3 linked regions of the Homo sapiens genome follow. The protein of the gene in region 3 purifies or fractionates together with the protein of the main gene of each other region. This does not show direct contact. Each region holds a gene or a part of one and is shown on either strand. Other genes may lie near its edges.

Region 1 (3,749 bases), on a different chromosome or scaffold from region 3:
TCTCCTGCCTTGAAAGGGCTGCGCTTCCCTCCTTGTGACCTTACCCCTGCACCTGCCTCTTGCCAGCATTGTTTTTTGGGCTGAGACTGTCCCCACTCCCCTGCCTCACAGGCTCTGACTCGGCCTCCACTTCTCAGTGAGTTTCCTCAGGCCGGGTGAGGCCCCTCCTCAGGCTCCCACCACACACCATGTGTGCCCACCTCTGCCAAAGCCAGCACAGGACCATCTGCTACCAGACCCTAAGCTCCTTGAGGACAAGGATGCTTTAATTCTCTCTGAAATTATCCCATCCCCCAGGCCCTGGCACATCTTGTTTTGTTTAGTAAATGTTATTGAACTGCGTGGGGAGGCTGAGACTTCGGGTCCATAACCTGTATTTCATGCCCTTTGCATCCTCAACAGGATGGTTATTGCAAGTTCCAACCTGGAAAGGCCATCGGCTTTGTCAAGGATGTAGCCAACATCACAATCGTGAGTGCCGATCCCCCTCTGGGATGGGGAATGTGTCCTGATGAGGAGGCCTCTCTCATGCTGTCGGATAGCCAGTGGGCCCAGCAAGGCAGCCCTTCTGGCAGCACATCCCTTTGACGAGTTCATATTATCCCTGGGTCTCAGTCGCTGTGATGGTGGCGAGGCAGGAGATGGGAGGGAGAGCGCAAACTGGCAGGCAGGCCCTCTGGTTCTGAACTCCAGATCCACACATGCCTTCATTCTTTTGGTTCTGTTTTCTTGCTTGTAAAATGCAAGCAATTGTCCGCATCCTGCAGAAGAGGGTATGAGCACGTGCTTGACACAGCGTGTGTGAAACTGAGGAGGGTGAGTGTGTGTCACTCAGGATGAGCCAGGTTCTGTTGCAATAACAACCGTGCCCAATCTGCATGGCTGACAACAGTCAAAGGGTGTGTGGCACTCCTGCGCCCATGCACAGCTTAGGGAGGGTGGTGTGTGCTCCGTGTCATTGGCCTCACGCCAGGACTAGAGGGAAAGAAGGTGGTAAATGATGCCCTAGCTCTAAAGCCAAAACAAGCCGCCCAGTCACAGTTGACCTCAAGTGAATAGGGAAGTGTGGTCTTACCCTGCTTCTCCCAGAGAGAACTGGAACGTGAATGAACGCCTTCGTGACTGCAGTGTGCATGCATGCAAGTGTGGGAGGGTGTGTGAGGAGTGGAGGAATATCGCTTAGGTTGTGTGTGCGCCCACGAATGTATGTACAGTTCACAAACGTGATGTCTGTGTAATGACAGCGGCTGCCATTTAGTTGAAGCATGTGCCAAGCTCTCAGCAATAACATCTTAACTTGATGGAGTACTTCTAGGTGCTGTACCAACCCTCAATACGCACTATCCCCTCTAGACCCGAACTGGCCCTAGGAGATGAGTATCCTTATTACCTCATTTGACAGGTGAGGAAACGGGGGCTCCAAGTGGTTAAGTAATGTGCCCAAGGCCACAGAGCTAGGAAATAGATGCTGGATTTGAACTAAGAATGTGTCATTCCAGAACCAGGGCTCATTGCCTTGACAACATACAGCGCAAATCCTGTACTCAGGATGTCACCCTCTTCAGAATGTTGCTGCTGTCACTCAAGCTGGCTGCTCTGGGCCATGATATCCCAAGGACAGGTGAATTTGGGCCTCAAAGGTATCCCTTTGCATGGTCCCCAGGAGAGCCTCATTGGTGACACCTGCAGGGCCCTGACGACCAGGCCAGAACTAGCATTCAGCCCTCTTGGGCAGGCCCATGGGGTGGAAATGGTGCCACCTGCAGAAGTCATCGCCCCTGTGCTGGGCTGGCCTCTGTGCCCTCCATGTCTCAGATATGCCCTGACCTGTTGGGCTCACAAGGCCTTGTCCACATACCAGGAAGGAGGGCACTCCCTTGCCAGGCACCTGTTTGCTTTTCACAGCTGGGTCTCTGTCCACCCCTCTAGGGAGGCAGGACTGAGGGAGGCTGGGCGCCCCGTCCCTCCTGCACTTGCTTTCCTTCAGTAGGGCCCTGGCCTCAGCACAGGTAACTTCCCCCCTCATTTCAGCTCCCAGAGGTCTCTTGGTTAGTGCACTTGAACCCAGCCACCCCCAACCCAGAAGCTCCAAAAAGTGCCAATGCCTGGGACCCACCCTGCAGATACTGTTGTAGTTGGTCTGAGGCACAGCCTGGACTTGGGGTTTTTTTAAGGTTCTGCATGGGGTTCTACCTGCTGCTGTCACCTGGTCTCTGCAGCTCTGTTCCAAAGCTGCAGCCTCCAGGAAGCCACCCTGACTTCCCCCCACCTACCTTCCCCCTTGGAGGGGACAGGTTCTACTCAGAAGTCACACAGCCCTCGGATGGGTCTTCTCGTTTCCACCGCCATCTGGGACCTACCCGTCCATGGTTTATAACCCCTGTGTTCTAGCAGCAAAGCTTTGTAGACTCTGGGTTTATGGGTGTAGGGGTGAGAGCTGCTGGCCCAGGAGAGGACCTCAGGGAATGGATGTGAATGACTGAATGAGTAGGTCCACGCTGTACCCCGTGGTCCCTATCTCAGAGGGTGCAGGGTTTCCTAGGAGCAGAGTTGGGGAGAGGAACGAGAGATGGCCAGACAGACCCAGCCAGAGACAGGAAGGGAGAGAGGCCGCAGGGGAGCTGCTTCTGGCCATCCATGCTGCTCTGGGCCTCTAGCCCCTAGCTTGAGGCAAAAGGCTGTACTGTGAAAGGAGTGGGGAGGTGACAGGCCATGTGTTTCTGTCTCGGTCCTGTTTCCACAGTATGACGAGGAAGCGATGGTGGAGGCTGTGGCCCTCTACAACCCTGTGAGCTTTGCCTTTGAGGTGACTCAGGACTTCATGATGTATAGAACCGGCATCTACTCCAGGTGAGTCAGGGTCCCAGGAGCCAGGAGGGACAGTGGGGAGGGGCTTGGTGGGCCTCCTCACACCCCACTCGTGGGACTTGGGCTCGTGGCCCAGACTCCTGTGTGTCAGACCCTTCATGACACCTGCCAGGTGCTGGGCGTTTTGCACATCCCTCAGTTAATCCTCACACAGCCCCAAGGGCCAGGAGCCATGGCCTCTTCTCACAGCAAAGGAGAGGTGGTCAGAAGGGATACGACAGACACAGGCCACCTGGCTAGTGAGAGCTAGGGCCAAAATTTGAGAGCTTTGTGCTCCTTAACAGAAGAGTTGCCTCCAGTTTAAAAAAAACCCATGTTCAGGCCAGGCGTGGTGGCTCATGCCTGTACTCCCAGCACTTTGGGAGGCCGAGGCAGGTGGATCACTTGAGGCCAGGAGTTCAAGACCAGCCTGGCCAACATGGCGAAACCCCATCTCTACTAAAAATACAAAAAAAAAAAAAAAGCCAGCGTGGTGGTGCATGCCTATAATCCCAGCTACTCGGGAGGCTGAGACACAAGAATGGCTTGAACCTAGGAGGTGGAAGTAGCACTAAGCCAAGATCGTGCCACTGCACTCCAACCTTGGTGACAGAGCAAAGCTCTGTCTCAGAAAAAAAAAAAAATACCCATGTTTAAAGATTTGAAGACGTAAAATAGGGAGAAGAGTAGCTGCCCTCACACACTAGGATCCTGTGCTGGAGGAGTCACCCCAGGCTTCTTCAGAAAAACCAAGCTTTAGCCTCTTTACTATGGGGTTTCTCTCACCCACACCTTTTCGCCTGCCTGGTTTGCAGCCTCATTTCCCTCCCTTCATCAGTTGCTGCCCGTTAACGTCACTCACTAATGTCACTCACGTCTGTGCTCTCCTCTCCCTCCCTGAG
Region 2 (3,109 bases), on a different chromosome or scaffold from region 3:
CCTGCTGACCATGACCTTCCCTTTTGTACCTGGTCCACGGAGCTCCCTCTCTGCAGACCTCAGCCTCTCCCTCTGCTGTGGTGCTTCCGAGCCCTTTGCACCTCCCTCTGGCCCCTCACATGCAGCTCAGGGAGCAGCTGCCACACTAGGGCTGGCTGGGGCATCTTCCCTCCTCTCACTGCTCTGCCTGGTTTGCCCCTTGTGTGGTCCTGGGGGACTGAGCTGTGGGTCATGGAGTGCGTGGTTGGGCACCCCAGCCTCCGGCTTCCCTTGGAGAATGTGTGCAGCACCAAGGGGCTGGGAGGTGTTTGTCTGGCTGCACTTTAGGGAAGGAGAGGGCACTTGGTCTATTTGATGGGCTGAACAGGAGGGAGGTGGAATGTATAAACTTTCCCAGGGGAATAAAGGAGTTTGTTCCCTGTGTACGGGCAGGGGCTGGGGAGAAGAATGGGAATCTATGGAGATCAGAGGGGACTTGCTTGGGAAAGGCATTTTGGGGACTCCAAGGCAAATGTCCCCTCACAACTGTAGATCACATCAGTGGAAGGACTTGGGGATGGTCCCCCGAAAGCTTAGCTGTTGCTCTAAAAGTTGGTCAAGGCAAGTGGCCCTGGGGGTTTCCTTCCAGAGAACAGATCAGATTGAGGACCCCAGTAGGCTCCCAGATGGGTCTCTGTGCTTAGGGCTGATGCTTAGTAAAACCACAAGGAGGGCCAAGTTTGATGGCAGCCACCTGTTCTGCATCCTCCTGCACCTCTGCCTGCACCTTTGGGGTATGCTGGGCACTGAGGTCCCCCGTGTCTCGCTGCAGCAAAACTCCAGCTGTAACTGTTTGACGCCCTGTGAATGGAACGCCTGCCACTGAGCTCCCAGGGTGTCTGCACAGGGAACCTTGGACTTGGCGATGGAATTGAATTGTAGGAATCCCTGAGCTAGAAGGGAGTATTCTGGGGAGACAAAAAGTCTTTCCCTCTCCTCTGAAACTGCACGTCACATGTTCACTTGATAAACACCATCTCAGCACCAGCTATGGCTCTGAAGGCAGCCCTGGTCCCTTGCTTCCTTGAAGTTATAGGCAGTGAGCCCCATCCTCTGTCTCTAGACCCTGGCCTGGGAATCTCATGATACCCACAGTTGTGCCCTGGCAGAATCAACACTACCACCCACTTCCCTTCCACCAGCCCCAGCCTCAGGGCAAGAGCTAGGCAGTAGCACTGGAGAGAGGGGTACGGAAACACCAAACACTGGGGCCTGCTGTGCCCTTGAGGGAGCCCTCTTCAAGCCACCTCCCCCTCCAGTCTCAGTCTTTGTGAAGTTGCAGAAGCTGTCTTGAACCCCTTGGCTTGGTCAGGATCTCCGAGAATCAGCTGCAGGGGAAACTATCCCTTGGGCAGAATGTTCCTGGAGGGAGGTGGTTGCTATCAAGGCCAGGCGGGGTTGGCAGGCTAGCCATCCGATACCCCGACCCCATGGCAGTTCCCACCTGGCACCTGACAGCTCTCCCAACTCCCATTCCTGCATTTCCTGTCTGCAGCTGATCTGGCCCTCCCTGGGAGGAGGCTCTCACCCCAGGGCATTTGGAGGGTGGGGAGCCTCCCTCCTCCCTTTGTTCCGATTGCAGAAAAGGAGGGGGTTCCCATGCCAAGGCAGAACTGTCTGGGACAGACGCTGCCCGGATCCCTGCGGCTGCCTGCACTCTGGACCACGAGCTCTGAGAGCAGCAGGTTGAGGGCCGGTGGGCAGCAGCTCGGAGGCTCCGCGAGGTGCAGGAGACGCAGGCATGGCCGGTGAGCTGACTCCTGAGGAGGAGGCCCAGTACAAAAAGGCTTTCTCCGCGGTTGACACGGATGGAAACGGCACCATCAATGCCCAGGAGCTGGGCGCGGCGCTGAAGGCCACGGGCAAGAACCTCTCGGAGGCCCAGCTAAGGAAACTCATCTCCGAGGTTGACAGCGACGGCGACGGCGAAATCAGCTTCCAGGAGTTCCTGACGGCGGCGAAGAAGGCCAGGGCCGGCCTGGAGGACCTGCAGGTCGCCTTCCGCGCCTTCGACCAGGATGGCGACGGCCACATCACCGTGGACGAGCTCAGGCGGGCCATGGCGGGGCTGGGGCAGCCGCTGCCGCAGGAGGAGCTGGACGCCATGATCCGCGAGGCCGACGTGGACCAGGACGGGCGGGTGAACTACGAGGAGTTCGCGAGGATGCTCGCCCAGGAGTGAGGCTCCCCGCCTGTGTCCCCCTGGCTGCGCTCTGAGCCTTCAGGGCCACCGCCCGCTGCTGCTTTTGTGCTGGGACTCTCCGGGGAAACCTGGTCGGTGGATGGGAAACTGCCTCCCCCTGGGAGGAAGGCTTTGCGCTCCGGGGCCTGGATGCGGCGCCCTCGGGCCGCCTGCGAGCCCCTCTCTGCCTCCAGACCTTGGGCAGAAGGAGGCCTCCTTGGGCCTGGTCCCCCTTTGCCCTGCAGTGGAATGAGGGCCCCTCAGCCCCGCATTGATCTAAATAAAGGACTGCCGAGTTCCATGTGTGCTTGGTGTTTGTGGGGCGGCTGCCTCCGAGGGCCCCCACCTGCTTCCAGGGTTCCTTCCAGCCCACCCCTCTCACCTGCGGTGGCAGAACTGCCTGGAGCAGGCCCCAGGGGCAGCTCCTGCCTCCCCTGACGCGGAGCAGAGGGCAGGTGGGCAGAGGATGTGTGAGGATGGTGCTGGGCGGTGTCTGTGGCTCCAGGTTCTGCCTGAGCTGCTGGTGAGGACCTGGGCACGTGTCCCGCACAAACAGGAGCGGGCGCCTCGCATGGACAGACGGAGCCCAGCTGCCAGCCTCTGCACGCAGCCTGCCTCTCTTCGGCTGCAAATAATATACGTGTACGTCTGTGTGTGCATCTGTGTGTGTGTCTGTGTGTCTGTATGCGTGTCTCTGTATGTGTGCATCTGTGTGTAAGTCTCTGTATGTTTGTGTGTCTGTGTGTCCTTGTGTGCATCTGCATGTGTATGTGTGTATCTGTGTGTGTGTCTGAGTGTGTCTCTGTGTCTATGTGTCTGTGTGTGTCCATTTGTGTGTGTGTCTTATCTGTGTGTCTGTGTCTGTGTGTGGCTTTGTGTGTGTATCTG
Region 3 (3,749 bases):
ACCATTTATAAAACCATCAGATCTCGTGAGAATTCACTATCATGAGAACAGCACGGGGGAAATCGCCCTTATAATCCAATCACTTCCCTTCCCCTACATGTGGAGATTACAATTGAAGATGGGATTTGAGTGGGGACACAAGACCTAACCATATCAGGTCCCTATACCCGACTCGTATGCAATATTTTTATCATAAATGTGAATGTGTATTTTTCTAGAAAGAAGATCTTTCGCTTTAAATATGCGTTCAGAGGGGACCATAGCCCTAATAGAGTTAAGGACTACGACTGTGAATGAGAAGAGGGTTAAAGCCAGAACCACTAACATCTAAAGGGCAAGAGAAGAACAGTCAGCAAAGAAGAGGAGTCAGCAAAGGAAGTCAGAACATTAGAACTATGGAAGCAATATCACAACTTTGAGAAGAAAATAGAATTAGATGCCAAAGAACCATGAGGATTGGATAGAATTTGGAGATTAGGAGGTTGCTGAGACGTTTGCTTGAACAATTTCACTGGAAAGTAAAACAATTACAGGTCTTAGTCACAGTGGGCTGAAAAATAAATGAGAGATGAGGAAATTGAAATAGAAAAGGAAGATACAGGGAAAAGTGCAAAAATAGAATGGAAACACAGGCTGGAACTAAATTGTGGAAAGGAAAGTTCAACTTTTTCCAGTGAGTATCACTGTGCATACACATGTTAAGTAAACTAAATCTCAGCATGACTGTCTTTAGTTAAGCCAATTAGGGAGGATAAAATAAGTGCATGTATCTGCAGCAAGGAATGGCTGCTTCACTGACTTCAAATCTACCACTGTGATAACTTGGTCCATTTATATTTTTATTCACTTCTTCCTTCAGGATTTGAGACCAGGCAGGTAACAGGGGTGGGGGGGGGGGGGTGCTGATTATTTAAAAATGAGCTAGTAAGTATGGTCAGATCTCAAAAATTGTTTCTTAATATGGACACACTGCAGACACAAAAAAACCCACCGCACTCTTGGAAAATATGCTATCTTCCATCTGCCCTGCTTTATGTCAACAAGGTATGAGTTATTTGAAACTCTAGAACAGTAGCATTTTCCTTACTGTTTCTAGGTTCAGAAACAAAGGAGAAAAATGAAAACTGCTTTAATGGGTGGCGGACGCACATTAGTTCACTACATTTTCAGTAGTCTCTAATCCAAGGTATCAGAAAACAAGATCAAAACTTTTGTGTGCTTCTCTGTTGCCAGAAACATAAAATAACATCTTGGTAATTATCTGGCTGACAGCAAAACAGGGGTCTGGGAATTCAAATGGAACCCCCAAGAGGCAAAGGAAGAGCGAATTAACATGCAAACTAGCAGCAGGGTGATGTCGCCTGTGCCTTTCACCAGGCCTAGCTGCACTCAAGGAAAGGGGCGCGCCAGCCCCTCCCCAAAGCAGGGACTAGAAGCAGAGGAGAAAAGCCATTGCAGTAAGCAAAAGGCCATAAGTTTTCTTCCATCACCTTCCGACCCAGCCTGTTTTAAGAAAAATCTTACTTAAGCACAACAGAGCTTTATACATGGTTATTTTTTCTCAACGTTTTAAGTGACCGGAACCTCTGATGACAGTAATCGCTCAGCATCCCTCACTCCTGCTCACTTCCTCTTCCTGCACGCCTCGGAGGGGAAACTTTGGGACCTTCCGGCACAACAGCTGAATCACTCGCGGTCTGGGGAAGAGCCCAGGGGGAGGAAACACGCGCCAAGGAACTTTAAATCTCCCTCCACTACTTTCGCCAGGGATGCAGGGACGCAGGATCTGCCCGGAGCGCTGCTACCCACCGTCGCCGCTCGCGACCAAATCCCGACTCCTCGCTCTGCGCCTCTTAGCCGCGTCGCAGCTGCAGTGTCAGCAAGTGCAGCCTCAGCAAGCACAACCGCTACCTAGACGGCAACCTGACAGTTTCAAACTGCAGGGAGGAATTAAGGACCGCCCTGGGCATTGGTCCTTTGTTTCAGCAATCTGCCGTTTGATTGGTCCGAGAGCTGGGGGCGGGGATTTGGGCCGCTGCCGGGAGAAGCCGGAATTACTTTGGAGAGCCCCGCCCCCTGGCTCCGCAGGTTGGTAGGGGGCGGGGTCCTAGGGAGCCCCACCCAGCGCCCGTGGGGATTAAATATTGCGCGTGCTCAGTTCTGTTCAGCGGCTGCAGGCTGCTAAGCGGCTCCGGGAGCTGATTTGGATAGAGGCTGTTGAGCAGGGCTGAAGTTGGCTAATGCCGTGTGCTGTTGGCTTTCAACAATTCCGGTAACCTAGATATGAGTCCTAATGCTTTCGTCTGCATAAGAACAATCCGAAATTCTGGGCCAGGTGTGGTGGTTCATGCCAGTAATCCCGGCACTTTGGGAGGCCGAAGTGGGAGGATCGCTTGAGCCCGGGAGTTCGAGACTAGTCTGGGGAACATAGGGAGACCCTTTCTCTATAAAAAATTAAAAACAAAAAAAAAATCTGCATCATCCACAGATCCCCTGCAACAGAATCACTTGGAGGTGCTTTTTTTTTTTTTGAGATGGAGTCTTGCTCTGCCGTCCAGGCTGGTGTGCAGTGGCACTATCTCGGCTCACTGCAACCTCCGCCTCCCAGGTTCAAGGGATTCTCCTGCCTCAGCCTCCCGAGTAGCTGGGATTACAGACGACCGCCACCACGCCTGGCTAATTTTTGTATTTTTAGTAGAGATGGAGTTTCACCATGTTGGCCAGGCTGGTCTCGAACTCCTGACCTCAGGTGTTCCGCCCACCTCGGCCTCCCAAAGTGCTGGGATTACAGGCGTGAGCCACCACGCCCGGCCGAAGGTGTTGATTCCTTCGGTCATGGACACCGTCAGGAAATCTGAATTTTTAACACACACTGCCAGTGATTCTGATGCAGGAGTCTGCAGACCACCCTTTGAGAAATTGCTAGTCTAGGCTGGGCGCGTTGGCTCACGCCTGTAATCCCAACACTTTGGGAGGACGAGGCAGGCGGATCACCTGCGGTCAGGAGTTCGAGACCAGGCTGGCCAACATGGTGAAACCCCATCTCTACTAAAAATACAAAAATTAGCCGGGTGTGGTGGCTTACGCCTGTAGTCCCAGCTACTCCGAAGGCTGAGGCAGGAGAATCCCTTAAACCCAGGAGGCAGAGGTTGCAGTGAGCCAAGATATCGCCACTGCACTCCTGCCTGGGTGATAGTGAGACTCTGTCTCAAAAAACAAAGAAAAAACCAAAATTGGTAGTCTAGTTTTAACTAATCTCAAACGTGTCAGACTTCAAGATAGAGCCTTCTGGTGAAGTATTGGCCTTAGAATCAGATCATAATTATAATCTAGCTTTACCATCTACTCGCTGTCACCTTGGATAATACTACTCACATACTAAGGTGGTAGGAGATTAAAGGAATTAATATATCTAAAACACCGAACACACAAACATATAGTCTTTCAACTTACATTGGCAACAGATAGGCTAGAGGTATGAGGACCCAGATGGCAAAGGTACCTAAGTAGCCCAGACTGGGGTTCTGCAATCTGAAGAACAGATACTGAGATCTGGGTGAGTTTTCAGGCTCCCTTCTGTTACCTCCAGTATAAGGTTTCTTTTTCTGTAGATAGAAATGACATAACCTGGGTCTCACTTACTTTTATGTTGGCAGAACCAGACTTCTACTTACACAAACAAGTAAGAAGAGCACCAGAAGTTTCTTTGGCATAAATTATGTTTGTTCTCCCCCTTTTTTTTCATGCTT

What was found.
Region 1: the proteins of POC5 (region 3) and CTSH purify together in Homo sapiens (affinity purification with mass spectrometry; 2 studies listed by BioGRID and IntAct, with this or other methods). This does not show direct contact.
Region 2: the proteins of POC5 (region 3) and CALML5 purify together in Homo sapiens (co-immunoprecipitation; 3 studies listed by BioGRID and IntAct, with this or other methods). This does not show direct contact.

What each region holds. Positions count from the first base shown.
Region 1 is NC_000015.10:78,924,435-78,928,183, reverse strand, and holds part of CTSH (pro-cathepsin H isoform a preproprotein), read left to right. Parts: intron 1-402; coding exon 403-471; intron 472-2,743; coding exon 2,744-2,850; intron 2,851-3,749. UniProt on the Homo sapiens protein: Important for the overall degradation of proteins in lysosomes.
Region 2 is NC_000010.11:5,498,110-5,501,218, reverse strand, and holds CALML5 (calmodulin-like protein 5), read left to right. Parts: upstream 1-1,648; 5' UTR 1,649-1,780; coding exon 1,781-2,221; 3' UTR 2,222-2,522; downstream 2,523-3,109. UniProt on the Homo sapiens protein: Binds calcium. May be involved in terminal differentiation of keratinocytes.
Region 3 is NC_000005.10:75,715,497-75,719,245, forward strand, and holds the start of POC5 (centrosomal protein POC5), read right to left. Parts: upstream 1,942-3,749; 5' UTR 1,810-1,941; intron 1-1,809. UniProt on the Homo sapiens protein: Essential for the assembly of the distal half of centrioles, required for centriole elongation. Acts as a negative regulator of centriole elongation.